Linked DNA regions of Homo sapiens. The protein of the gene in region 1 interacts with the protein of each later gene in a pairwise test. Each region holds a gene or a part of one and is shown in the gene's direction. Other genes may lie near its edges. The genes, in order: GOLM1, TF, RPA2, KCNE3, ZFAND3, DYM and SLCO3A1.

The links.
Region 2: the proteins of GOLM1 (region 1) and TF interact in binary tests that used the Homo sapiens proteins (3 or more experiments, as listed by UniProt).
Region 3: the proteins of GOLM1 (region 1) and RPA2 interact in a two-hybrid assay, tested with the Homo sapiens proteins (one large-scale study listed by BioGRID and IntAct).
Region 4: the proteins of GOLM1 (region 1) and KCNE3 interact in a two-hybrid assay, tested with the Homo sapiens proteins (one large-scale study listed by BioGRID and IntAct).
Region 5: the proteins of GOLM1 (region 1) and ZFAND3 interact in a two-hybrid assay, tested with the Homo sapiens proteins (one large-scale study listed by IntAct).
Region 6: the proteins of GOLM1 (region 1) and DYM interact in binary tests that used the Homo sapiens proteins (3 or more experiments, as listed by UniProt).
Region 7: the proteins of GOLM1 (region 1) and SLCO3A1 interact in binary tests that used the Homo sapiens proteins (3 or more experiments, as listed by UniProt).

The regions. Positions count from the first base shown.
Region 1 is NC_000009.12:86,078,732-86,082,820, reverse strand, and holds part of GOLM1 (Golgi membrane protein 1), read left to right. Parts: intron 1-3,479; 5' UTR 3,480-3,500; coding exon 3,501-3,629; intron 3,630-4,089.
Region 2 is NC_000003.12:133,773,562-133,777,650, forward strand, and holds part of TF (serotransferrin isoform 1 precursor), read left to right. Parts: intron 1-1,871; coding exon 1,872-2,056; intron 2,057-3,487; coding exon 3,488-3,677; intron 3,678-4,089. UniProt on the Homo sapiens protein: Transferrins are iron binding transport proteins which can bind two Fe(3+) ions in association with the binding of an anion, usually bicarbonate.
Region 3 is NC_000001.11:27,907,959-27,912,047, reverse strand, and holds part of RPA2 (replication protein A 32 kDa subunit), read left to right. Parts: intron 1-4,089. UniProt on the Homo sapiens protein: As part of the heterotrimeric replication protein A complex (RPA/RP-A), binds and stabilizes single-stranded DNA intermediates that form during DNA replication or upon DNA stress.
Region 4 is NC_000011.10:74,457,020-74,461,108, reverse strand, and holds part of KCNE3 (potassium voltage-gated channel subfamily E member 3), read left to right. Parts: intron 1-3,505; coding exon of another isoform or gene 3,506-3,545; coding exon 3,546-3,857; 3' UTR 3,858-4,089. UniProt on the Homo sapiens protein: Ancillary protein that functions as a regulatory subunit of the voltage-gated potassium (Kv) channel complex composed of pore-forming and potassium-conducting alpha subunits and of regulatory beta subunits.
Region 5 is NC_000006.12:38,151,533-38,155,519, forward strand, and holds the end of ZFAND3 (AN1-type zinc finger protein 3), read left to right. Parts: intron 1-702; coding exon 703-857; 3' UTR 858-3,092; downstream 3,093-3,987.
Region 6 is NC_000018.10:49,373,524-49,377,612, reverse strand, and holds part of DYM (dymeclin), read left to right. Parts: intron 1-4,089. UniProt on the Homo sapiens protein: Necessary for correct organization of Golgi apparatus. Involved in bone development.
Region 7 is NC_000015.10:91,916,192-91,920,280, forward strand, and holds part of SLCO3A1 (solute carrier organic anion transporter family member 3A1), read left to right. Parts: coding exon 1-267; intron 268-4,089. UniProt on the Homo sapiens protein: Putative organic anion antiporter with apparent broad substrate specificity.

The DNA.
Region 1 (4,089 bases):
ATGAATCACCTGGGGAGGTTAAAAAATACAAATATCCGGGCCTTGCCCTAAACCCCATTGAATTAGAAATGCAGGGCTGGGGGCCAGGTGTGATGGCTCACGCCTGTACTCCCAGCACTTTAGGAGGCTGAGGCGGGAGGATCACTGAGCCCAGGAGTTTGAGACCAGCTTGAGCAACATAGTGAGACCCCATCTCTACAAAAATAGAAAAAATTAGCTGGGCGTGGTGGCACACACCTGTAGTCCCAGCTACTTGGGAAGCTGAAGTGGGAGGATCACTTGAGCCCAGGAAGTTGGGGAAGCTGAGGTGGGAGGATCACTTGAGCCCAGGAGTTGAGGCTGGGATCACACCACTAGGCAGCTATTTCAGCCTGGGTGACAGAGTGAGTGTGTCAGCCTGAGCAACAGAGTGAGACCCTGTCTCAAGAAAAAAAAAAAAGGAAAGAAAAGAAATGCAGTGGTGGAGCCCAGGTATTGATATTTTAAAAAGTGTCAGGCTGGGCACGGTGGCTCATGCCTGTAATCCCAGCACTTTGGGAGGCCGAGGCGGGCGGATCACAAGGTCAGGAGATCAAGACCATCCTGGCTAATGGGGGAACTTCGTCTCTACTAAAACTACAAAAAATTAGCCAGGTGTGGTGGCAGGTGCCTGTAGTCCCAGCTACTCGGGAGGCTGAGGCAGGAGAATGGCATGAACCTGGGAGGCGGAGCTTGCAGTGAACCTAGATCACGCCACTGCACTCCAGCCTGGGCAACAGAGAGAGACTCCATCTCAAAAAAAAAAAAAAAAAAAAAGTGTCCCAGGTGATGCTGATGCCCCTTGAGTGTTGAGGACCACTGGAACAGAAGGACCCAGATGTTAGAAAATGTTATCCCTTTCCTTTGGAGTAGGATGAGGGGGATGTAATTTATCCTTTTTTCTTTTTTTTTTTTAATCAGAGTCTCGCTCTGTCGCCCAGGCTGGAGTGCAGTGGTGTCATCTTGGCTCACTGCAAGCTCCGCCTCATGGGTTCAAGCTTTTCTCCTGTCTCAGCCTCTTGAGTAGCTGGGACTACAGGCATGTGCCACCATGCCTGGCTGCTTTTGTATTTTTAGTAGAGATGGAGTTTCACCACGTTGGCCAGGCTGGTCTCAAATTCCTGACTTCAGGCCATCTACCTGCCTTGGCCTCCCAAAGTGCTGGGATTACAGGCATGAGCCACTGCACCCGACCAATTTATACTCTACTGTGTGTAGTTTCCTATTTTTTCCTTAGCAAAAGCCATTTGGAAAAGTCCCTGCCACCCCCTCTTGTATTTGTACTTTTATATTTTAAAAACAAGGTTAGCTGGGCACGGTGGCTCATGCCTATATTCCCAGCACTTTGGGAGAACGAGGCAGACGGATCACCTGAGGTTGGGAGTTCCAGACCAGCCTGACCAACATGGAGAAACCCCGTCTCTACTAAAAATACAAAATTAGCTGGCCGTGGTGGTGCATGCCTGTAATCCCAGCTACTCGGGAAGCTGAGGCAGGAGAATCGCTTTAACCCGGGAGGCAGAGGTTGTAGTGAGCTGAGATCACACCATTGCACTCCAGCCTGGAAAACAAGAGCGAAACTCCGTCTCAAAAAAAAAAAAAAAAAAATCATTGAGGCTGGGTGCACTGGCTCATACCTGTAATCCCAGTACTTTGAGGGGCCCAGATGGGAGGATCACTTGAGGTCAGGAATTTGAGGCCAACCTAGGCAATAGTGAGACCCTGTCTGTACAAAAATTGTTTTAAAAAATTAGCTGGGCATGGTGGCCCATGTCTGTAGTCCCAGCTACTTGAGAGGTTGAGGGCAGGAGGATTATTTGAGCCCAAGAGTTTGAGGCTTCAGTGAGCCACAATTGCGTGACTGACTCCACCCTGGGCGACAGAGACCCTGTCTCTAAAATAAATAAACAAAAATTTTAAAAAGTTTAAGAGTCAAAAAAGAGACTCTTGTGATCAAGAGTCTCTTGAGTATATTCAGTGCTTGCTGATATCAGCTGATAATTGAAAGAAAAACGTGGTTTCCCCTTTCATCCTGAGAGGCCAGAAGCTGGTAAGACATGAGCACAGGTCAGAATTTCCACCCGTGGGAATTCTGGGGGTGCTTTATTTTAGATGATTCGGCTAGATTGCTTCTTTATCCCCTGGCAGGCCCCCATACTAGTAGCTAGCTGTTAAGAAAAAAGAAGCCTTTTGGTGACCCACCTGAAAAGACCATAGGGTGAGGATCAGTTCTCCCATGTTCTCACTGGTGAGAATTGGGTTTTGCAGGTGAATCCTTGGTGGTATCCTCTTCCTTACCCGTCCCTTGTCTTTTTTGCCCACCATCCCCTTTCCTCCTCTGTTGCTAGACACCCCTGGTGTAAAAGGCTCTCTGTGCTCAAAGGCTGTTTGTTGCAGTGCAGCCACGCTCACTCTGATAAGGTTCTGTTTTATCTGGCTTGGGAAAAGCCATTTGGAAAAGTCTACTTTCCTTGTTCCTAGAGACCAGTGCTTGCATCCAGGCAGACCTGGCTTTGAATTGAAGCCCATTAACAAAATTTATGGCATCTTTCTTCTAAGCTGTATTTTTGTGCACTCTGTAGCTCTCACACAGAGGCACTGTTTTTCCTAACATGAGGTGTACAATGCAGCAGTTGCACAGATACGGTCCCTAAAGTGAGAAATGAATGTTCGAAAGAAGGTGCTCTCGTTTGGCATGGAGTGAATGCCTTGTTTCCACCTCAAATCCTAAGATGGAACACATTTTTCCTGGTGACTTCAGGCAGATGGCACACCTCCCACTTCCGTTGTGTGTCATGAAGGAGGAGACACTTCTATAGCCAGGGCTGTGCCTGAATAATGATGTACATGGGGGGGAGTTCACATTCACCTCCAGAATGGGTTTCCTGCTTTGCTTGAGAAATGCTTTAATTGGGTGTCATTAGTAATCCTGTCAAGGGTAAAAAAAACCTCCCTTGTTAGGAATCAAAGCAAAAAGCTCTCTCTGAGGAGTAATGAGGAATATACTCTTTCTAATATGATGCGGAAGCACTTAATATTTGTTATTGGTGTTTACAGAAATGATTACTTCTCAAACATTGCTGCTTACAGAAATGATTAATTCTCAAACTATGCCGGGAAGGTGAGTATGGTAATGATTTTACAAGGGAGGAATCTGAAGTGTAAGAGGAATCATGTCTTGCCCCAGGTCTCGAGCTAATCTGTGGCAGGTTTCGGGGCGGTGCCTGCTCCTCCGAGCCTGTCCTGGGAACTGGCCACACTGCCCTGGGTTCACAGCACCATGGGCTCTGTGCGTGCCGTTCACATACTCTTCTCCCTTGACAGCTTTGCACGTCAAGGAGAAGCTACCAGCCCACGCTTCTTGGCAAGACTCCTTTCCTCTTGGTTGTAAGGATGATACGGTCTGCTTCGGAGATGATAAAACTAGTATTGATGTTTATTTATTTGCTTTTACTTGGCAGATTCTCAGCGCTGATTTTGAGATGATGGGCTTGGGAAACGGGCGTCGCAGCATGAAGTCGCCGCCCCTCGTGCTGGCCGCCCTGGTGGCCTGCATCATCGTCTTGGGCTTCAACTACTGGATTGCGAGCTCCCGGAGCGTGGACCTCCAGGTGTTTTGTTTTCTTTATTGTTATGTTTATTTTATGTTTATGTTTTGTTTATTTTGTTATGATGGGGTCCCAGGGGTTTGTTGTTTATTGCCAGCCAGGGCGTTTTGTGCAGGGCACACGCTTGTAAGGTGAGTTTAGGGCTCTGCACACCCCCACAGCCCTGGGCCAGACCCCAAGCAGCTTTGGGTGGGAGAGGTCCCCTCTGTGGTTGTGTAGGATTGCGGTTGTGGTATCCCTCCCTGCCTTTCCTGTGAGTTAACAGCATTCATTTGAGCTACTGGGGTGGTTCTGGGAAGACAGCTTGCTTACATACACTGGCCATAGTCCGTTGTTTGCGGTCCTCCGGCGCCCAAGATATCGAAGAGTAGTATTGGAAGTGTGCTTGGATGATGGGTGTAAGAAATATGTTTTTAAAGGTACCAATCTTTATCTTCATTACTTAATGATAATAATAATTTTA
Region 2 (4,089 bases), on another chromosome or scaffold:
TACCAATTTTGAAGGCGTAGACTATGAAATTACAAATGCTTCAAAATTTTCTTCCCAATACTTACGTGGCATTTTATAAATTTCCACCAATAAACGTGTATTATTTTTATTGAAAAAGCATATTTTTAACATGCCCTTCTAGATGCCCTCCTAGCCAGACTGAATCACCTCCCATTTGATTTTTCTTAATTTTCTACCTTTAGGTTCTGGCTCATTCATTAACATCAATTTCCATTCATAAGTCCTCACAAACCCACTTTTCCTCTTGCCTGAGTGCCTCACATACCCTACTGCCTGAGATGGTTCCAGAGGCGGTCTCCTCTCTCCCTTAGAAACACCAGGCACACACCTGCCCCCAGTCTCGCCTGCACTCTCCTTTCCTCCCGCAGAGAGGCATTCCTTTCTCCTCCTCTCATCCTACACACACTATAAGAGACAACTGAAATCTTGCCTCCTCCAGCCAGCTTCTTAATTCATTTGTTCTCAAAGCCCTGGTTTGAGCTCACACAGCATCTAGAGTGTTTTACAAAATATAAAATATTATTATCCCTGCCCTGAATTTTTTGTTTTGGTATGTGTGTTATTTTCCCCTCCAATAAGATTGTGCCTTGGAGAGGGCTGAGAACATAGTATCATAGATAAATGAATAAAATAACATAAAATAAAATAAAAATACATATACCCTTTGAACTAACTATTCCACTTCTATGTAAGCACAATTATATGCCAGTAACACTCATTTTAACGCTACTTTAGTGGCAAAAAATTGTAAACACCTCAGATGCCTATTAAAAGAGGAATGGTTTAAAGATACTATTATAGCCACACTATGAAATATAATACAGTAGTTAAGAAGAACGAGCTTGATTTGTATGTACTGACAAGAAGAATCTATAAGGTATGTAAACAGTTGAAAAAAAAGCTACAGAGTTTTACATTTGTCAAGATCTAACACTAAACAAAATTAGAAACATGTGAAATCCATATACACACGTAGAAAAATACATATAATGAGCCGTGGATGGAAACTCGCAAATGTGATATTAAAGACTAGCACTATAAGACTGAGTGAGATTTGGAGAGTATAGGAAAGGAGGCTTTTAGTTAATATAGAGAGATATTCAAAAATTTATGAGTGTGATCTCATGTATTAGTTATTCGGTTAAAGAAACAAAATTAAATGAAAAATACATTTTTAAAAAGGTTGCAATTCTGAATTATGGGAGAGAAATAAAAATTAGCAAAACATATTTGCAAAGTGGCTCAGGAGGAAGGAGCTGAAACCCTAAGAATGGGTGAGTTTTTTTTTTTTTTCAGAGACAATACAGAAAAGAAGAGGCAAAGGGGCCGAGATGGGATACAGACCTGTATCACACAGGTGTGTGCACATTCTCATTTAGAACTGGAACAAGGGAGTCAGATTTAAAATTCTGGTGCAGATTCCAAAGGTGTTCTCTGAGGAAAAGTTCTTTTGTTTGGAGATGCCATGTGTTACAGCACAGAAATTGATCAACCTGGCTTAGAGCGTCACATTCTTCCTCTGTTGGAGCAAGAGGTACAGAAGGAATTGGAATTTAGTGGAATTGAAGATCTTTTTGAACAGCATCTGCAGAATGTAGTTCATTCTCACCTGGCTGGGTAGGGAAGGTTGGAAGGGGATGGTCAATAATCATTCCTGGTCACTGTGAGTCTGGCATCACCTTGTAGACCACATGGGTGTCTCTTCCTGTCCACATCACTGTAACCCCAGTGTGGGCACTTCTGCTGGCGAGAAGGCCCAGGTTCTCTACACACCACTGAGTCAGTTCCATCTCCCCAGCGGGGCACCTTGACCAAAGCCATCAGCTGAACCACCTTCTTCCTGTCCCTAGGAAAAAACCCTGATCCATGGGCTAAGAATCTGAATGAAAAAGACTATGAGTTGCTGTGCCTTGATGGTACCAGGAAACCTGTGGAGGAGTATGCGAACTGCCACCTGGCCAGAGCCCCGAATCACGCTGTGGTCACACGGAAAGATAAGGAAGCTTGCGTCCACAAGATATTACGTCAACAGCAGGTATGGACCAGCCAGGTCCTCCCACCTTTTCTTCCTAGATGGCCATAGGCTATTCGGGGGGAGTTTACAACAAAGTGCAGCCATGACTCCAGCACTTTCTTTTTGAAAACTAGAATTCCATGCATTGTGCATTTCATGCCATGCATTGTGGACTAGAGTATCAGGGTTCAAATCACAGCTCCACAGCTTCCTAGTTGTGCCATCTTGGGTATGTTACATAACCTCTCTATGCCTCAGCTTCCTCATATATAAAATTGTAATAATAATATTTTTACCTACTTCTCAGTTAACATGAGTATTAAGTGAAGACATGCACCCAAACGGCATAGGAAAATTCCATTTCCTATAGGACGTGCTCAAAATATGTTAGCTGTGTAATTATGGAACTAGACCTCTCAGGCCCAGCTCTGCTTCTAGCTCCTGGTCACTGGTGATTAGATCTGATCCATGTACTCTTGGGACTAGGAATCTGCCTTTCTGCTCCCCCTAACCTTGTTCAGGGGTACCCTCATTTCCCCTACTCCTGTCCTTCCCGAAAATGAAGAAGACAGCTCCTGTTTCCCAGCGCTTGTTGATACGAGTCATGAAGAGTGGATTTCTGTTCCTCTTGCCTAGGCAGACTGAGCACTGTTCTCAACAGTCTGAAAAACACAGGACCCTTGCCCTCGGAGAGCCTGCCCTCTGGGGGAACAACCACTCAGGGCCAGCCTTGTTGAAGACAGGGGCTGCCTGAGTATTCTAATCCTAAAGGCCCCTCCACACACACACATCACCTTCCTTTTGGGCATAGCTGCCTGCTGTTGATTCACCATTACCTTTTTTTAAAAAAAATAAGAGTATATTTGAAGTCCTTTTAAGGTACATGACAATAATAAGCATTTAACATACATTTCCTAGCTGCTATATGGAAAGTTCAACATTTTGCAGTCATCATTTCACTTACAACCTTTGGAGATCTGGAGAAGCTGAGTGGCTTGCCCAAGAAAGGATTCAAAATGCAGTCAAACATGAACTTTTAAGAACTACCTCTGCCACTCCTCTGGGAGGGTTCACATTTAACATCTTCTTTGACAATAACATCTGAAGGGACATGTTATTGTCCTCTCATTTCCTATAAGCAGCCCCCAGTGAAGGGCAATGAAGTGGGGAAGAGAGGTCAGAGTAGGCAGGCATGGGTGTGGGTGGGAGGGACTTATCAGAGGAAGGTGGGACCAGGGACCCTATAGATGATTTTGGGGGCATCATGAAAGCATGCAGCTGGGGCCCTAAGTGGATAAATGGCAGATAAAGGAGGTGGAAAATTCCCAAGACATACTCCGTAGCTTCCCTTTTTCCCCAGGGCTGGTTCAGAGCTTTCAGACTCTTCTCATCCATGTGTTCCCAGCTGCTAAAGACCACAAGGTCCTCACGGACTTTCTGTTCACTTGACAGCACCTATTTGGAAGCAACGTAACTGACTGCTCGGGCAACTTTTGTTTGTTCCGGTCGGAAACCAAGGACCTTCTGTTCAGAGATGACACAGTATGTTTGGCCAAACTTCATGACAGAAACACATATGAAAAATACTTAGGAGAAGAATATGTCAAGGCTGTTGGTAACCTGAGAAAATGCTCCACCTCATGTGAGTAGGAGGAACAGCATGGGGAAGTGGCAACCAAACATGGTGGTGAGTGCTGGGATGGTGGGTGGGTACAGGAGGGGTAGGCTGTGGCCCTTGGGATAGGACAACATGGACAAAATGAAATGGTGAGTGAACAATCTAAGCCCGGCATGTATGACAGGCTAGACTGTAGGGGCAGATAGTAAGGGGATACAGGCTCAGAGCACTAAGGTAGTGAACTTATTGGGTATAGAGAATTCCATCTTATTTCTAAGAAAAGGACTGGGTTTATGTGTACATGCCATTGCTCTGCAGTAAACTTTTGATTAGAGTTGCCTTGTCCAATATGGTAGCCACCAGCAAGATGTGACTATTTAAATTTAAGTTAATTAAAATTAAACTAAATAAAAGATGTATTTCTTCAATCCCACCT
Region 3 (4,089 bases), on another chromosome or scaffold:
ATCTGGGCTCACTGCAACCTCTGCCTCCCGGCTTCACGCCATTCTCCTGCCTCAGCCTCCCGAGTAACTGGGACTACAGGCGCCCGCCACCACACCCGGCTAGTTTTTTGTATTTTTTTAGTAGAGACAGGGTTGTACCATGTTGGCCAAGATGGTCTTGATCTCCTGACCTCGTGATCTGCCCGCCTCGGCCTCCCAAAGTGCTGGGATTACAGGTGTGAGCCACCGTGCCCGGCCGCTTTATAACTTTCATATAAATTATTTTATGTAATTCTGTAAGGAATTTATTGTTTATTCCAGCATACTAACAGAGACTCAGGTATATTAAGGGACTGCCTAAGCTTACATAGCTAGTAAGGAACTAGAATCAGACAGTACGCACATGATGCTGAACAAATCCAACATCTGATGAGCAGCAACTTCTCCCTGTTGTAGTTTTCTCTTTCCTAGAAGATCTCAAGGGACTTTAATTCTCTATTCTGATTTTCTTGAGGTTGTGAAGGAGAAAACAAGGTAGATGATTGGTTCTCATCTTTTCTTCCCAAGCTTAACTATTTTTCTCCATTCTGGTTATTATAATTTTTATCTCAGAATTCCTAAAAGCTGGGTATTAAGATAGCTTTTCAGAGAATAATGCTTGTAAGTTGGAGACTCAATCCCAGTCTCTGAATTTTTTTTTCTTTTTGTGGAGACAGGGTGTCACTATGTTGCCCAGGCTGGTCTCAAACTCTTGGGCTAAAGCAGTCCTCCCACCCTTGCCTCCCGTGGTGCTGGTATTACAGGCATGAGCCACCACACCCGGACAGTCTTTTTGTTTTTATTTTTATTTTTTTTTTGAGACAGTCTCTCTGTTGCCCAGGCCAGAGTGCAGTGGAACAATCTCAGCTCACTGCAACCTCCACCTCCTGGGTTCAAGCGATTCTCCTGCCTCAGCCTCCCGAGTAGCTGTGACTACAGGCGCATGCCACCATTCCTGGCCAATTTTTGTATTTTCAGTGGAGACGGGGTTTTGCCACGTTGGTCAGGCTGGTCTCAAACTCCTGACGTCAGGCGATCTGCTCTTCTTGGCCTCCCAAAGTGTTGGGATTACAGGTATGAGCCACTGCGCCTGGCCTTGTTTTGTTTTTAAATCTAGTATTTTCCACAGTTAAAAGTTAGGTAAACGCCCTATTCTTTTTTTCTTTTAAAATTGAGACCGTCTCACTTTCACCCCCGCTGGAGTGCAGTGGTGCAGTCATAGCTTACCACAGACTCTTAACTCCAGGGGTCAAGGGATCCTCCCATCTCAGCCTCCCAAGTAGCTAGGATTACAGGTGTGCAGCACCATCCCTGGGTGATAAAGAACTCTATCCAAAATGTTTCCTGTTGATTATGTATTTGTTCAATATGATTGAACCATGTGAAGTTTCAAATAGCGACCCAATTTTAATCTGTAATAATGGTACTTTCCTGAAGTACTGTCAGAGTAGTCTGTGGTTCATAGTCAGCTATGAAAATTTTTTTAGTTTGAAAGTGTTTTTGTTTTTGTTTTTCCAAAATTAAGCATATTTTTATTGACACTTTGTGAACCTCTTTGGAGCAGACTAGGAATTCCTTGTGATCAATTCCTACATAAAATATATGCTCAATAAAAAATAAATACTTGATTTGAGATGAATTTGAAGGCATTGTTAACATCTCAACTGTTACCTATATGTAACATTTTTACCTGAGAGGTAATAATATTTGTCAAACATCTACTACATGTAGAGATTGGTATTAGCACTTCATATATGTTATGTGTCTCATTTACAACTTAAGAGGTGTATATCCCCAGTTTTCAGAAAAGGTGGTCATGTGTCCAGGACTTTGGAGCTGGGATTTGAGCATGGGTCTACAGGACTCTCTGGCTCCAAACCTCATGTTCTTGCCACTTTACCTTACTGGTTCTTAAGTTTTCTTATGCTGAAGATACAATGAAAATCTCAGCTGTGATAGGTAAAAACAGAAATATAGTAGTTTGTGAGAGGTAAATCCTGGGACCCCTGCAAATTTTAAGACTATAAATATTAACATAGCATGTAACTTTACCTATAAAATACCATAAAGTAAAATTGAAAAAGTTGATCCTGTCAACGTTGTTATTAAAAGCTATTGCAAATGTAAAGAATGAGGAACAATAGCTAATATAATAATAGCTAAAATTTGTTATTGAGTGCTTTGTGCTGGGTAGTATTCTGAGTCCTTTACCATGTAATTTTTATAATATCATTCCTAGTTTTGCAGATGAGGAAACCGAGGTACAAATGAGTTAATACATGTGACCAAGAGCGACCGCTCTTTTTTTTTTTTCTCTTTTTGAGGAGAGTCTCTGTTGCCCAGGCTGGAGTGCAATGGTATGATCTCGGCTCACTGCAACCTCCGCCTCCCGAGTTCAAGTGATTCTCCTGCCTCAGCCTCCCCAGTAGCTGGGATTACAGGCATGCGCCACCACACCTGGCTAATTTTTTTTTTAAATTTTTAGTAGAAATGGGGTTTCGCCATGTTGGCCAGGCTTGATCTCAAACTCCTGACCTCAAATGATCTGCCCGCCTCGGCCTTGGGATTACAGGCGTTACCCACCACGCCTGGCCAAGCAGCTGCTCTTGAGAATAGAGCCACAATCTTAACCCTCAAGCTTGGCTGCTGCCTTTTGTGGCATATGTGCCAGCGGTTGACTGAGCTTGCTTTATCCTGTTGTGGCAATACTCACCATTCACAATCATGCTTCAGCAAAATGAAATATTGGCAGTGTCGTGGATGTTCAGGTCAGAGTTGCGACTGCTAAATCCATGAAGGCCAAGAGTCTACTGTGTTCTAAGTCTTCCATGTAGTACAGGTATTGGTCCACTTCCTCTTGGCTTCTGACAGGAAGAGCTCTCATCGTTTTTGTGCCTTGTACATATTCCCTCTAGGAGACTGGGAGTACATACTTGCCCTCAGCCTGTTACCTGCTACTTTTTCGCTGTTGAAATTCTCGTGCTTCAGAGTTCAGCCTAAAGCCTCCCTCTTTTGCCAGTAAGCTTTTCTGAGGTCCCACATGGCATGTTTCATTTTACAGTGTATCAAGATCAGGTTTATTGTTTACCTTTGTACCTCCCCTAGATTAGGAATATGTTGAGGGTAAATCCTGTCCCATCATATTCATCTTCATGTTACCCAGACTACCTCTTGCCACTGGTAGGCAAAAATAAGTTTACACTGTTGTCTGGCTGCTTTAAGATATGATTTGGGCCTGGCGCGGTGGCTCACGCCTATAATCCCAACACTTTGAGAGGCCGAGGTGGGCAGATTGCCTGAGGTCAGGTGTTCGAGACCAGCCTGGCTAACATGGCAAAACCCCATCTCTAGAAAAAAATAGAAAAATTAGCTGGGCATGGTGGCGTGCACCTATAATCCCAGCTACTCGGGGGGGCTGAGACAGGAGAATTGCTTGAACCCAGGAGATTGAGGTTGTAGTGAGCTGAGATCGCGCCACCACACTCCAGCCTAGGCAACAGAGTGAGACTCCATCTCAAAAAAAAAGATATAATTTGAGTGTGCTCACTAGATACTGTTCTGCCTACCCTATCCTGCCTCTTCCCCCTAAGACGTCCAACATGAGTCCAGCACAGTGGTTTATGTGTGTCATCCTAACACTGGGAGGCTAAGGTCGGAGGATCACTTGAGACCAAGAGTTTAAGACCAGCCTGGGCAACATAGCAAAACCCCATCTCTACAAAAAAAAAAATGTTTTTTTAATTGACTGGATGTGGTGGTGTGCCTGTAGTCCCAGCTACTCAGGAGACTATAGCAGGAAGATTGCTTGAGCCCATGAGTTTGAGGCTGCAGTGAGCTGTAATGCCACTGCACTCCAGCCTGAGTGACAGAACAAGACCCCATCTCAAAACAAAATTTGGCCGAGGGCAGTGGTTCACACCTGTAATCCCAGCACTTTGGGAGGCTGAGGTGGGCAGATCACCTGAGGTCAAGAGTTCCAGACCAGCCTGGCCAACATGGTGAAACCCCATCTCTACTAAAAATGCAAAATGCTGGCACATATAGTCCCAGCTACTCAGGAGGCTGAGCCAG
Region 4 (4,089 bases), on another chromosome or scaffold:
GGAAAGGAACTTATTTCCTTCAGAGTAGGCTCATCAAGACACTTACACTGTTTGTTTGTTGTCTACCTATGAAATTGCCTGAGGCCCCTTCCTCCTTCAACCCTCACTTAGCCATTTCCTCCTCAGGTCTTACGACTGTCTCTACCCCCACTTCCCTACTTTGTTATCCTCTCTGCCCCAATTCATGACTCAGCATCTTACACTAAACTATTTCAAGACTCTGGTAGCTGGGCTCACTGCCTCAATTCCAGCTCCCTCCAGTCCACATGACAGCCAGAGTATCCTTTCCAGGCACAGATCTGACCATTTTATCTTCTTTTAAGATACCATTCCATGGCTTTTCCCTAGCTACAGAATAAAGTTCCAACTCTACAGCGTGGCACTCAAGGCCCCCCATGATCTGGATCCTCTCTCTCCTGCCCCACATCCTACACTATTCTTCCACACATCTTACACTCCAACCTCTTTATGCTACTTTCCATTCTTCTAAACATTTACACACTTTCTTGTTCTGCCTTTGCTCATGTTTCCTTCATCTTTTCTGCCTCTTAAAAACCCTTCAAGGTCCAACTCAAATGCCTCCATCACTGTGGACACTCTCTGAGCCCTGATCAGTATCCATCACTTATTCCTTTCAGCCTTAGTAGCTCTTTGCTTGTCCCCTGCATTGTATCAGAGCCCCTGGGCGAAGGCACTGGATCTGAGCCACCCCGAACTCCCATCACAGGGTGTGGCCCATATTGGTGATAACTATCTAGATTATTTTTTGAGTTATTTATTTCATCATGCTGCTCCTACTTGCTATTGGCCCACACGAGGGAAGCAGCAGCCACAGAGTTCTTGCCTGACACATGGGGTAGTAGATGAGAACGTGTATCTCCTGGATCTTAACTCAGTGAGCTCTTGTTCTTTTCCCCTCCTCCATCCAGACAAGGCAGCACAAGTACTAGATGTCAGAAGGCCCCAAAGGCCTTGCATGAAATGCTGCCCAGTCCTGGCTGATTGTGTTCATAGAGCCATTGATGAATATTTTTCATAGTCAGAATGATCATCTTTTCCAGGGAAGAGATCTTATGGTTAATAGTCACATATTAGTTTGTTAACAGTTCTACCCATATGATGGAGGACTGAATGCTTGGCCCATAGAGAATTCCTTAAAGTGAACATCTCTACTAGAAACTATTGAGAGAAGGAGAGCACCCAGCCAATCTAGAAAAAGGGAATACCCAGCCAGTCTCAAGGTAGTGCCCTGGGAAAGGAGAACACCCAGTCTCAGGGTAGTCCTCCAGACTGGGGTAAGAGACATAGCCCTGCTGACCAGACGCATGTGGTCTGATGATATCCTTATCAAAAACAAGAGGACAGCCACATATTGCCTTATATGTAAGTGCTGGGGGGAAGGGAAGGCTGTGATGATAAAGGCAGTGTAGTGTGGCTGAGAGGTGGGGAGCACTGAATGGAGGCTTCCTAAAGGAAGTGAGTGTGGGGCCTTGTTTATAGGGAATTACATATGGTTTTTCAGAGACAAGGATGCAAGTCTGTTTTAAGATGTTCTTTCTGGCTGGGCGCCTGTAATCCCAGCACTTTGGGAGGCCGAGGTGGGCGAATCACAAAGTCAGGAGATCGAGACCATCCTGGCTAACATGGTGAAACCCTGTCTCTACTAAAAATACAAAAAAATTAGCCTGGCGTGATGGCGGGCGCCTGTAGTCCCAGCTACTGGGGAGGCTGAGGCAGGAGAATGGCGTGAACCCAGGAGGCGGAACTTGCAGTGAGCCGAGATTGCGCCACTGCACTGCAGCCTGGGCGACAGAGTGAGACTCCGTCTCAAAAAAAAAAAAAAAAAAAATGTTTTCTATATTATAGACTAAGGATCTCTGAGAAGAAGGGAAAGGAACATTTATAATCACTTACTATATGCCAGGTACATAATGACTTTATTTCAGGAGACAAGATAGTTGGCGTGCTTGTGTCTTCTTTTTGTGGGCAGGTAAACCCCAAGCCAGACTGAGAACTCCTTTCACTCTCCCGCCCTCAGGCCCAAGCTGCTGTTCTCTTCTCCAGTGCCTGCAGTGGTTACCAACCTGTTCCCGTTTCCCTGACCACCTCTTTCCAACAGAATTTCTACAAATAGCTAGGAATATCTAGTCTTTGGGACACAGGATGCTTGAGAGGGCAAATGATCCAGCTTCTGGCCTCCAGGCAGGATGAAATTTAAACCATCCCCAGGTGTCTTCCAAAAGGTGTCCGTGGAGTCTTTTTTTTTTTTTCTTTTGAGACAAAGTCACGCTCTGTGGCCCAGGCTGGAGTGCAGTGGCTCTATCTTGGCTCACTGCAACCTCCACCTTCTGAGTCCAAGTGATTCTCCTGCCTCAGCCTCCCAAGTAGCTGGGATTACCAAGCGCTCACCACCACGCCCAGCTAATTTTTGTATTTTTAGTAGAGACGGGTTTCACCACATTTGCCAGGCTGGTCTCCAACTCCTGATCTCAAGTGATCCCACCCGCCTCAGCCTCCCAAAGTGCTGGGATTACAGGCGTGAGCCACTGTGCCCAACCTGTCTGTGCAGTCTAAAGAGAACTGTGCTCAAGGAGAGTTGTGATGAATGTCTTCTAATGGTGCTGCACAGTCCTGCTGAGAGCTAGCATGGAAGTGGAAGCAGCTCTAAGCTAGCCACAAAGAGCAGGGCTTTCTGTCTTGGCTCTACTTCCAATATTCTGTGATCATGGACAAGCCACTTATTCTCTCAAGGCCTCAGTTTCCCTGTGTATAAAATGGCAAGAGTTATATTAAATAATCCTTAAGTTCCTTCTAATCTAAAGTTCAGTGATTTATAGAAACCAAAGAAAGGAGAGATTAATATGGGTTCTGATGGTCAGGGAAGGCTTTGTTGTACAATTATTTATTGAGTACTTACTTATTGAATGCTGTCATAAGTGATTGCATATAGCAGTGAGTAAAACAAATATAGGCCCTGCCCTTATTGTTTAGTGTATGGTCTAATGGAGAAGACAAACATGTAATCAAGCAGCTAGAATAAGCTATTGTATTAGTCCATTTTCATACTGCCATGAAGAAATACCTGAGCCTGGGTAGTTTATAAAGAAAAAGAAGTTTAATGGACTCACAGTTCCACACGGCTGGGTAGGCCTCACAATCACGGCAGAAGGCAAAGGAGGAGCAAAGGCACATCTTAAACAGTGGCAGGCAAGAGAGCAGGTGCAGGGGAACTGCCCTTTCTAAACCATCAGATCTCGTGAGACTTATTCACTATCATGAGAACAGCATGGGAAAAACCCACCCCCATGATTCAGTTACCTCCTACTGGGTCCCTCCCATGACACATGGGGATTATGGGAGCTATGATTCCAGATGAGATTTGGGTGGGGACACAGCCAAACCATATCAGCCATGATGCTAAGATTTTACCTGGGATCTGAAGGGAGGAGGTCATTTGAGCTGCAGGTGACAGAGCCATCCCCTCTCTCTTTTCTTTTGCCACCAGAGCTTCTACCGAGTCTTCCCCCACCTCAATCCCTGTTGCTATGGAGACTACCAATGGAACGGAGACCTGGTATGAGAGCCTGCATGCCGTGCTGAAGGCTCTAAATGCCACTCTTCACAGCAATTTGCTCTGCCGGCCAGGGCCAGGGCTGGGGCCAGACAACCAGACTGAAGAGAGGCGGGCCAGCCTACCTGGCCGTGATGACAACTCCTACATGTACATTCTCTTTGTCATGTTTCTATTTGCTGTAACTGTGGGCAGCCTCATCCTGGGATACACCCGCTCCCGCAAAGTGGACAAGCGTAGTGACCCCTATCATGTGTATATCAAGAACCGTGTGTCTATGATCTAACACGAGAGGGCTGGGACGGTGGAAGACCAAGACACCTGGGGATTGCGTCTGGGGCCTCCAGAACTCTGCTGTGGACTGCATCAGGTCTCAGTGTCCCTATCTGTAAGATCAACAAGAAACACGGTTAAGGGAGGTCGTCACTGGGGTGGGAGAAGAGGGGCTGGTAGACCGAAGCCTTGTGCATAAGGATTTTTTCCCAGGAAAAGATAGACTTTATAAACAGTGGGAGCCC
Region 5 (3,987 bases), on another chromosome or scaffold:
TCACCTACCCAGTGGAGGGAAGGACAGCTGGGGGCCCGAGTGTGGGCATCTCAACCTCTCTCACCTACCCAGTGCAGTTAGAAGTGTCAGATTCCTTGGAGATGGCGATTGGAGCCCAGCATTGCTGTCTCCTCTGTTTCTATCTAATACTTTTTCTAGCACTAGAAATAATCCACTTTCCTTTGAGAGCTCCCACTCATTTTTGGGTTGTGGTTTGATCACTCCCACCATCCTCTCAAGCCCCGGCTGTACAGGAGGTGGAATGTCATTTAAGACATAATCATTTCTCCTGCCTCCTAGAAATGGTGGGCATCCTGTGGTGGAAATCACAGTTTGCCCGAGCCAAGCAGAGAGCTGAGCTGACAGCCTGTGCTCTTCCGCCTGCATGGTGCTGGAGAGGAGCGCAGAGCCCACTCATTTGCAAGGACAGGGCTGTGTCTCGCAGCCATCAACTTAGGGTTCTACCCTTCAAGGGTCCAGGCAGGGACAGGCTTGAGCAGCTGTGGAATGCAAAGTGCTGACCCTCTTGCTCCAGGGTGCAGGTGTTGGAGTGAGCTCTCTGCTGCATCAGGAACCCCTGCAGTGAGTGTTGTCCACTCACTGGGATGCCCCTCCATCCTCTGGACAAAGGCAATTGTGAGGCTCTGCGCACTTGGAGGCCACCCTAACACACTCTTTCCTCTGCTTCTCCCGCTGCTGCAGGTTATGTGTTCTGTATGTTACATCGCCTCCCCGAGCAGCACGACTGCACATTCGACCACATGGGCCGTGGCCGGGAGGAAGCCATCATGAAAATGGTGAAGCTGGACCGGAAAGTGGGGCGCTCCTGCCAGCGCATCGGGGAGGGGTGCTCCTGAAGGCCAGGCATGGCCACCACGTGACGCTGTTCTTAGTTCACTAATGTTAGCCTTATTTAGGACAAAGTCAGCCAGACACCTTGTACTGGGCACGCGTCAGACTGCAGCCAGTCCGTTTCCTTTCTTTAGCCAGCCATCCTGGTACTGTAGTTTAGGGGTTGATGGTGGTTGAAATTGATTTCTGGCTGGTTACTAAGGTGCCTGCTAGCCATTGTATAAAATTAAAACATGAAGAATATTTTTTTTTTGAGCATGGCTAGTGGATTTAAAACAACACATACCTGTCACTGCTGGAGTCAAACTTATAAAAAGCCTTAAGTGGAAAGTGTTCCAGACGGAGACTCTGAGTTAATAGAGGAGTAGAAGCTGGTGTTAAAGTTCCCACGACGCACATGGCTTTGCCAGAAACTCTGTTTAATGATCGGCCTTTCACCTCTTCACTTATCCTTAGTCCCAGTAGCCAGGATACCTGATGGCCACGTGTGCCTTGGCCACGGGAGGCTGCTGAGATTGGCCACGTGGCTGGGCTGGGTGGTGGCCTCACTCTCCCACAGAGCTGGAAATGGGGGGTGGGGGACAGATTCTTACGGAAATTTTTTTACCTGACTTGCTATGAAAAAACTCATCACACAAGAAGAGAAACAGTAACCTCACTTTGAAAATTAGCTCCACTCAAGACTAGTCCACGAACGAGACCCGCCTTTTCTACACAGGATCCAAGGTCACGAGAAGCAGCCAGAGTGCCCCGCCTCCGCCGGCTCTGGTCTGCCATTCGCCAGTGCAGGGATCTGGCACGGACCAGATGTGGCGAATGGCAGCACAGCGCGGTGGCTGGGTCTGCACACTGGCCTCTGCAGCCAGATTTCTATATTGGGAGTTTTTTAAAAAGACATTTCATAGCCAACAAGAATCAGTAGAAGTGCTGGGAGCAGCAGCTGGGGAAGCTGCCGCCCACGGGCTCTGCCCCTTCCAGCTGGAGCCGCCCGTGCCTCCAGGGGCCAAGAGGATGATGTCGTGGCCTCCATTCTCGTTTCTATGCAGCCCCATAGTCCAAGGACACCCAGTCCACATCTACCATATAGCAAGTTTAGTAAGGGAAGGCAGCATACGTCCCAGGGACAGTGGGTTTGGATCTGTCTAGAACAGCGGTTTGTGGCTGTGGCCCAGCTCCGAGAGTGATATTTGCTCTGGTAGGTGAGGGCCTGAGGGTACATTTCTCCACCTGTGCCCCCTCATGTTCACAGAGGATTTCAGCAGCTGCAACTGCGCACGCCAGGTGGGGAAGGGTGGGGGTGGGCCTGGTTGCCCCATGTTAGGAAATCACTACCAGTCAGGTGGGGCTGGGGCTGGGTGGACAGGATCAGGATTCCCTTGAAAGCCCAGGCAGGGTGAGCAGTCCCAGTGGTCCTAGTGCCGCATCAGATCCAGGTGGGTGAGGGCAGGAGGCCCCTGCGGAGGCAGCGTGGATCTGCCCACACATAGGCTACTGGAATAGTTTAACCCAGCAACTTTCCTTTTTATAAAACAACAAATGGTTCAACTCTGTCTGCAAATTAACAGCTGAACACCTGCAACTGCAAATGTTTTTTGATCCGACGTACTGAAATAGGAAGTCATGCTCTTCCCACCCTCCACCCACCAGAGTGGAACCCGCTGCAAAATCCCCAGCCTTAATTCTTGCTTCAGGACCCAGACCGGTGTCTTGCTCTAGGGCAACCCAGGGCAGAGGGGCCAGGTCTGCCCAGCGTTTACCACTGCTGTCAAGCCACAGCCCTTGGCCACCATACGGGCCATCCTCAGTGAGGCAGCCCCCCATAGGCTTCCGCCAAGCTCTGGTCCCGAAGAGGCTGTGCGAGCCCTTCCCGGCCCTCCCCAGGGCCCCCCGCCCCCTCCTCTGCCTGCTGCGTGGAGGCAGCCATGGGAAGGAGCCCAGGGGAGCTGGCCTGGGGGAGCGAAGCCCATGTTCGCTTCCTGACTTAGAGCTGGGGGGGGTGGGGGGTGGGGCTTGTTCCCCTGCAGTATCTGTTCTGTGAAGTTTGTTAAATGTAAGGAAAGCTTAAATTCTTGTATCTTTAAAAGAGAAAATCTTATTTAACCCTTTTGTGTTCTAGATTTACTTACACACATAGCCTAGAGCTCAGTTTTAGTTTTAACATTGTGAAAATATTAAAAGAATCTTGTAACTTTATTCTTTTTTCTCCTGCTGAAAAAAAAAATTAAACCAATCGTATGAAAGTTTGGTTTTCTTGTTTCACCCCTTCTCCTAAGTGCCCCCTGGGTTGCTGGGAAAACTGACCCATCTCCCTGGCCAGGGCTGGAAAGAGATGGGGGCCTGTGTGCAGAGACCGTCTGCAGTACTTGGAGGCACTCGTCCAGTTAGTGTCCAGGCTAAACAGCCGCTTCCTTGCTTTCTGTTGGGAGCCTCTGCCCTGGGAAGCTGCGGGACTGGCCTTGGGGTAAAGGTGGGTCTGCAGGGCCAAGCCTGTGCCAGCAGCCAGGAGGTTACACACTGGGGGGGATCAGAAAACGAGCCCCAGCCCTGAGGGCCCCAGGCGTGGGTGGGGTGGGTGCTGGGTCCTGAGGGAAGGCAGCATGCCCTAGACCCGAACCCCACCCTAGGAAGGGCCTCCAGGATGGATGACGAAGGCTCCCAAAGGCTGGCTTGGAGGAGGTGTGTGCTGTGGCACTCTTTGGTGTATAGGATGAACTTAACTACATTTTTAAATGTTCAAAAAACATTTGGCAGGGCAGGGGCGAGGCACAGGAGTGGGACCTGTCCCCACTTCTTTTAGGACAGAGATATTGACCGCATAGTTGTCATGAGCGTGATGAAAATCCTCAGAGGAAATCAGAGGCCCAGTGGCGATGAACAAGCACGGGGGCAAAGGGCAAGAGAGGGCCTTGGTGGCCTGGGTGTGAGGCGGGCCTGCAGGGAGCAGTGGGCTGTGCTCTGCCCACTGGTCCACAGGAACTGGGTCTGCGTCAGCTCCTTCCTGATTGCTTCACAGAGCAACAGTCCACAGCAACAACATAACTGTTGTTATGCCAACAACAGTCCACAGCAAGAAGAGGGGATGGTGGGAAGACAAGCAGAAACCTTCCTGCTGGGTGGCGTGAGAAACAGGAAACC
Region 6 (4,089 bases), on another chromosome or scaffold:
TTCTTAAATTCTATTATAGAATTTTTATTTATATTTTTATTTTTATTTTTTTTGAGATGGAGTCTCGCTCTGTTGCCCAGGCTGGAATGCAGTGGTGCGATCTTGGCTCACTGCAGCCTCTGCCTCCTGAGTTCAAGCAATTCTCCTGTCTCAGCCTCCTGAGTAGCTGGGACTACAGGTGCATTCCACCAAGCCCAGCTAATTTTTGTATTTTTAGTAGAGATGGGGTTTCAGCATGTTGGCCAGGCTGATCTTGAACTCCTGACCTCAAGTGATCCACCCACCTTGGCCTTCCAAAGTGCTGGGATTACAGGCATGAGCCACCGTGCCCGGCCTAGAATTTTTAAAAACAATATTATGGGGAAGTAGAAAAGATTCTGTGGAAAGTTAACCTTTTGTGCATTCAAGCATTTCTTAAAACTATTTTTAGATGGCAAAAATCTTATGGAAATTCTGGTTATATCATTTAAATGTATTAAGGTATTATGTTACATTTTGAGCAAATGAAATGACATGGTACAAGAAAACAATAGTTTACAATACTTTCAACTCAAGTAGCAGAGTGACCATGTGTATTTATCTCTTCTCCCTCTGAGACCCCATTACCTGATGGTAGAGCAATTTTCTACACATACTGTTGAGCAACTTAGGACAGTCATTTCATCCTTCTTTAGGCTCCTTATGGCCTCTTTCAAGATCAGGAAACGGTTTTGGAGAAATAGAATATGAATTTCTGTTTTACTGCAATCTTTTTCTTCATTCTTATCCTCAGTGTATTTCCAAATTAGAAAAGGACATTCTTCTTGACTCACACTTTGAAAATACGATTTTACCATCTTCTAACATTTTAACAGCTTTTCTGTGACTGGCCACCTTGATAGCCATTTGGCAGGTTCATGTCCAAGGAGTCTATCGCCTTTCATTTCTGTAAGGTCCGAATCTCACTAAGTTCTGCAGGTTTTGAGAAAACTGAAAGGTGGCAAACATCACAGGGCAGGAAACTACTGCCTCATAGCAATGCTGTGTGCAAGGCATGCAGAACATTTAGCAGGCAAGAGCTCTTCATTTTCTTTGGTCAGAAGTTTGTAGACTAAATGGAATTTGCTGCAGTTTACATATGCCCTGTCCCCAAATAGGCAGATAGATGAGCAGACTCTAGTTTGTGCTTGAGCAAGATATCAGCAATCTTTTGTTTTCTGTTTATGTGGAAACATTTTTGTTTTCCTCTACTGATACTGGACAAATATGGTTGAGTGTATTTAAATTCAAGTTTCATCCTTGAGAGCATACTGAATTAAAAATATCACAATTAAGTTTGTTTCGTAAGTGTTCTAAAGTTTCTTTCCAACAGATGACATAGTTGGCTGGTTGCAGGGAAGGGAAATCATATGTTCTACTTTTCTTTGAAAGTTATTGTATTAGGGTTCTCTGGAGGGACAGGACAAATAGCATAGATGTATATATGAAGGGGAGTTTATTAAGGAGTAGTGACTCACATGATCACAACGTGAAGTGCCACAATAGGCCCTGTGCAAGCTGAGGAGCAAGGAAGCCAGTTTGAGTCCCAAAACCTCAAAAGTAGGGCTGACAGTGCAGCCTTCAGTCTGTGTCTGAAGGCCCAAGAGTCCCTGGCAAACCACTGGTGTAAGTCCAAGGGTCCAAAAACAGAAGAATCTGGAGTCCAGTGTTTGAGGGCAAGAAGCATCCAGCATGGGAGAAAGATGAAGGCCAGGAGACTCAGCAAGTCTGTTCCTTCCATGTTCTTCTGCCTGCTTTATTCTATTTGTCCTGGCAGCTGATTAGATGGTGCCCACCCAGATTGAGGGTGGGTATGCCTCTCCCAGTCCACTGACTCAAACGTTGATCTCCTTTGGCAACACCCTCACAGACACATCCAGGAACAGTACTTTGCATCTTTCAATCCGATCAAGTTGACACTCGATATTAACCATCACAGTATCTCAGGTATTATTCTACATTTCATAGTTAAAATGTGGATAACTTTATTATTCTTGAATAAAGCAAGCATATCAATTTTAGCAGTTTTATTTGCTGTCATCTTTTATTTTCCCTTCTGTCCCAGAAGACCATTTCATGGAAGGTCACTTATTGTTTTGTCCAGTTTTGAGTTAGTATGAATTACTACCTCATTAACTTTGGGGGATAGGGGGAAGGGGATAGGTACTGAAATTCTCTTTGATGCTGTTAAAAAAATGTTAAATTTCAGATACTGTACCAAGTTATAATTTATTAAGAATAGTTTCCTATAAAGGGTGAATAAAATGACAATGAATATGTGTGTGTGTATATATACATATATATATGTGTATATATGTTTATATATATATATTTTTTTCTTCTAAAGCCCAAGGTAGGTATAGATGTGTGTGTGTGTGTGTGTGTGTGTGTGTGTGTGTGTCTTTTCCCCTTTCCCGCTTTGTAACTGTGAGAGCCCCAGGTGTTTAGGGGCTGCCCCACGAGTATTTCCCTTGGATAAAAATGTTTACCTTGTCTTCTCAGGGGAAACAACTCTCCAGTTTCACTGTAGATCAGCCATTCCTTTCTTGGATTCTGTGCTTTCTACTCTGAAGTAATTCCTGTTGAACTTTTGAGATTCTGCTCTAAAAAAGATAGGCAGCCAATTTTTTTTTTTTTGAGACAGTTTCACTTTTGTTGCCCTGGTTGGAGTGCAATGGAACGATCTCGGCTCACTGCAACCTCCGCCTCCTGGGTTCAGGTGATTCTCCTACCTCAGCCTCCCAAGTATCTGGGATTAGAGGCATGTGCCACCATGCCCGGTTACTTTTGTATTTTTAGTAGAGACAGGGGTTTCACCATGTTGGTCAGGCTGGTCTTGAACTCCTGACCTCATGTGATCTGCCCACCTCGGCCTCCCAAAGTGCTGGGATTACAGGTGTGAGCCACTGGGCCTGGCCTAGGCAGCCAAATTTTATTGAAGCTACCTTTCATTAAGCTACCTTGGAAAAGGGAGCTGAGGCACAGGAAGCAAACTGAACCATCCTAATATTTTTAGAGATTGAGCATTTGTCATTTCACCAAAATTTATTTCAATAATAAAAGTCCCTTTGACTCCACATTTGATTAGTGGTACTGGAAAAACAGGTACTGCTTCCTCTTCCCCCTAAACTTTCACAGGCAAAATACATTTTCTGTCTCTTTCTCAGTCACTAAGTAGGAAAGGAACATAAGACCTTCTAAGTTGTTTCTGAATATAGCTAGATTTTTTGCTGGTCTTGATCTTCTTTTGGGATTGACCATTATGTTCTCTGACTACCATATAACTGTATGTTATAGTATAGACTTAATCAAGGATTTTGAGGAAGTTAACTAAGTTGGTGTGTGAGAGATACTGCAGAATTTTGGTATTTTGAATGTTATATACTTTATTTTTTTCTAGGAGAGAATATTTGTGAGAATTATGTAGAATCTAATTAATTTAACTATTCCCAAACCACCCCATCATCTTTCACAGTTATTGTTTATCATTTAGCATGATTTTCAGAGCTTGTGCTTTATACATTGAGTTTGAGTTTCAAGAGATGGATATGTTTAATTTACTATTTTGATCATTAGCCTTCTATATTTTTTAAATATATACTGATGTCTGAAGTTAGAGCTTTTAATTAGAATTGTGTCTTGCGTGTGTTAGTTTTGTTAATGCTGGCCTTCATGTTTGTGATGCCAGTAGTACCAAAAACATAGTTCTGCTTGGTAAGTTGCAAACCTTCCCATGAAGTGCTAGCAGCAAGAATGGAGTGAATGTTTATCCTCACAGGGCCCAAGAGCATAGCCCACTCAATACCTGCAAACCCAGCACTTTGTTTTGTATTATGTCCTACAAAATGTGCATATTTTTACTTTATTTAACGTGATATTGTCAGAGGCATGGGAACCAGAACAACTCCATCTTGAATAGGAGCTGGGTAAATTAAGTTGAAACCTACCAGGCTATATTCCCAGACAGTTAAGACATTCTAAGTCACAGAATGAGATAGGAAGTTGGCACAAAATACCAGTCATGAAGACCTTGCTGATAAAACAAGTTGCAGTGAAGGAGCCAGCCAAAAC
Region 7 (4,089 bases), on another chromosome or scaffold:
AGTTCCTGACCCACCAGTACAAGTACGAGGCGGGCGAGATCCGCTGGGGCGCCGAGGGCCGCGACGTCTGCGCAGCCAACGGCTCGGGCGGCGACGAGGGGCCCGACCCCGACCTCATCTGCCGCAACCGGACGGCTACCAACATGATGTACTTGCTGCTCATTGGGGCCCAGGTGCTCCTGGGCATCGGTGCTACCCCTGTGCAGCCCCTGGGCGTCTCCTACATCGACGACCACGTGCGGAGGAAGGACTCCTCGCTCTATATAGGTAGGAGCTGCCCCAGCCGTATTAGCAAGAGACCAGGGTGTGTTGACCATGGATAAAAGGTGGCCTGGTGGACTTTGATTTTGCCAGAGTACTGGTTCTCAGACTTGGCTGCACACCTAGTGTTCTTGAAAAATACTCATGCCTGGGGGTGCAACCTGGGCATTGAGACGTTTTTAAAAGTTCCCAGGTGATTCTTGTGAGCGGCCGAATTTGAGCTCCACGGGGCTAGACCACTAACACCGCTTCAGTGGGAAAACATGATCGGGAGGAGTTGTATGTTTATCTCTTCTTTTTGAGTGCGTATGTGGACTTTGGGCTTTCTGATATTAGCCACCAAGGTATACTTGGGGTCTACACATTGGAAACTCCAGCTTTGAAGAATCAGAATGATGTCCTGGTCATTGTCCTGTTGCAGCTCAAAAGGAGAGGTGATGGCTTTGCCAGCATTTGGCATCATTCGAAGTTGGTGACTTCCGGTAATTTTTTCAATAATGGAAGTATGCATGGGAATTGGGTATGTAGAGAGAAATAAGGTATTTGTGTTTTGAAAAGTTATTTTTCACGGTCAGAGTTTCTGATGTTTTATACTGGAAGGATGGAAACCACTTGTGCGTGGGGGTTAAGAATCATCTGAGTGGCAAGTTGTTTATTACGTGGCGGGCAGTGTTTTCAGTGGCTGCGGTGGGCTCTGTTGGATGGCAGCGTGCAAGGTGAGGGCTGGCCAGCCCCGCATCTCTATCCCTTGTTTACAAAGTATAATTCTGTCTCCTGCCAGCTGCTGGATTTTTCTGACATCCCCAGTCACTGAGTGCTAAGCTTTGAAAACATTACCTCTACCCAGGGAAGCTTTATGCCTCCCAAAAGCAATGTGCCTTGAGGTAGAAAGTTAATTATATTATGGAGTTTTAAGTGAAAATAGAATTTGAACTGGATTTGACATAAAGGTTCCTATCTGCCAGGCTTCAAGCTTGCTGAGATAGGATGGTTTGGAAGCAGGACACACCGAAATGCAGATTTTTCTCTGTGTCTTTCTGGCCCAGCTTTGGAGTAGACGCGTTTACTGAACACGGATGTTGCACGCGGATGTTCTGGCTGGCTGTGAGCAGGCTCTGGGCAGGAAAGATGGAAGGAATGCGCCTCTCCATTCAGAGGATGGAGCACCAGTGAGCCTAGTCACCAGCTACCTATGGAACAAAGGGGAAGAGAAAACGGCTCAGGCCAGAGATGGTTAGGGGTTTCCATTATTACCTGAGAGTGGTTATGGTGGAGGAAGGGAAACTAAGGTAATCATTTTTCTTTCATTGCCTTAAGTCTTGAGTGAAAGCCGCTCCACGTGAGTTTTTTGCACACCAGATCATGGACTACAGCATGTAGCCACAAAGGTCTCCTGAGGTCCACCCTCTGACTTGACTGATGTCACCCTAGGGCTCTGGGAGAGTTGTTTTCTGGTAGGAATAACAGGAAGTAGATCAATCAGAGCACAGGGAATGAAATGGGGAGTGAAAACCTGAATTGTTGTCTCTGCTGATAGAATCAAGTAGAAAAATTTCTCCCCAGAGTCACCCCTGAAGTCCTAACAGTGCTGTATCACTTCTGCCTGGGGCTTCCAGCCGTAGTCACTGAACCCTCTTCTGGAAGTGTCTCCTGATGAGTTAAGCTGTGCTGTTTCCCCACACTGGGTGAGGGTTGGTTTGAATGTGCCAAAAGCTTTATGGTGAGGAAGCACTTTGGTTTGGGACATGGGGGTGTGGGAGGTGGAGGCGTGGACAGTAGGGCTGATCATTTGAGGCAGAAGGCCTTCTTGAATTCTGAGGCCTTGTCTGTGGGATTTGCATTGAGTCTTTGGTAGGAAGAACTATTCAGCCAAATTTCTATTTGGTCACCCCATTCCTCTGTGATAAGTCTGAGTTGGGGGAGTGTCTCTTTGCATGACATACGAACATCTTGGTGGCTCTGTTACATATGGCCAGATTCCAAAACATCGTAGCCCATGCCATGGAGATGATAGTTCTGGGTTTCTCTGCACTGGTTTACATGGGTTTGTGTTTATCGGGATCAGGAGAGGACAAGTCTTTTGCATAGATTGGCCTCAATAGGGGGCCTTTTATTCCATATGTGGTTTATTCTCCAGGTATAATTTAAGATCATAGCATATGCAGAGTATAACTGGTTCATTTATTTATTGTATGAGCTATAAAAAAAGTGTTTGTGGTAGTGAGAATATTTCAGAGTTTATCTCCTCTAATATGGCACTAGTTCCTGAAGCCACTTAACTTTACTTCACAGTATTTGGGGTAGCCCACTGAACAGGATTGATATAAAATTCTGGCCTCTTAACTCCCTGAAGAGGAGGAAAGTCTCAAGGGACTGATGCTGGGACTGTAGGTGTAACTGTATATCCATCGGGGAGGAATAACATGTGTACCCCTGGTTCCAGCTCCTGCAGAGTTGGTCTAGAGAGGGGCCCACAACCAATTGTCTGGTCATATGCCTAAATCGTGACACTATAGTGGAGATTGAAAGGATTCTAAATATGGCATGTGTAAAACACCAGCTTGTTCTTGAGCTGAGCCTTCCCTTTGGGTGTCAGCAGGGAACAGAATGATCAACATGCACAGCTCAGGCTGCAGATCAGTGGTGATGACACCTGCCCCGGGTCACCCGCATTGTGGGTCACTAGATGGGTGCTGTTTGTACATCGGTGGCCGTGTCGTAGCTTCCACTACAACCCAGGGCAAAGTGAAGCATTCCATCTTGAATCAAGCCGATATTTTCCACTGAAATGACTTACTTGCTTTGGCCTCTTGTGGCTGAGCCGCTGCCAGATTCCTGGATTCCTGGATGGGCTATTCACAAGGGGCTCCTCTGGCTGGCACCATTCTTCAGCCCGTCCTTTCCAGTGTGGGAGGGAGCCAAGGGAGCTCATTACCAGGGGACAAAACTGGATGAATGGGGACTCGGCTCTGCTGGCAGGCTTTCACTGCGGCATCATGCGGCACCCGGACTCACAGTGCAGCCAGACGGTGACCCGTGGGTGGCACGTGGCACTCTTTGTTCCTAGAGTGACTACATGGGCGCAGTGGCAGTGGAGACCACTGGGCCCCTACTGAGGTCGGAGAATCCATTCTTTGGGAGTCTAGTCATGCCTCTAGCTCCATGTTGTGATCTTCCATTAGCCCAGTTTTCTTAGCTGTCCTTCTGTTTCTCTAAGTTCAGAACACAAGTCGTATTTGCTTTTTATGAAAGTGTAAGTAGGATGATGGAATGGGCTTACTGTGCCCTTTCATTAGGTTGCCCCCCTTTTTTTTTTCAAGGAGGAAAAGGTGAAATGGGAGTACTAAAGATTTCTCAATAACTTTATTCCTAGTTAAAAAGCATTACATGTTCACCGTTTACAATTTTGAATATGTAGAAAAAGAATAATTAGAGAATATTGTAGCTTTATGGTGTACACAATTCTATTCTCTCTTCTGCATTAGCATGCTTTTCTATGAAAATGTGTTCAAGATAAATGATGTTTTGTGTAATTTCATTTCTCTTACTATTTCATGAGCATTTGTTTGTTACTATTCTATGACATTGCTGCATATATAATCCCTTCTGAATATATACGACAATATTTAATACTTTCTATAGTTGGACATGGATTTTTAAAATATTTGCTGTTTTAAACAAAGCAGATAGGTAAACTGTGATTCCGAGAGGTTGAGTAACTTACCCAAGCTCATTTACCTGGATAGGGCTGGGCTGTGGGTCTGAAAGTGATGCTTATTTCAGGTATGTCTGGGATCTGCTCACGAGGCTGGGATGGGAGCTCAAGGG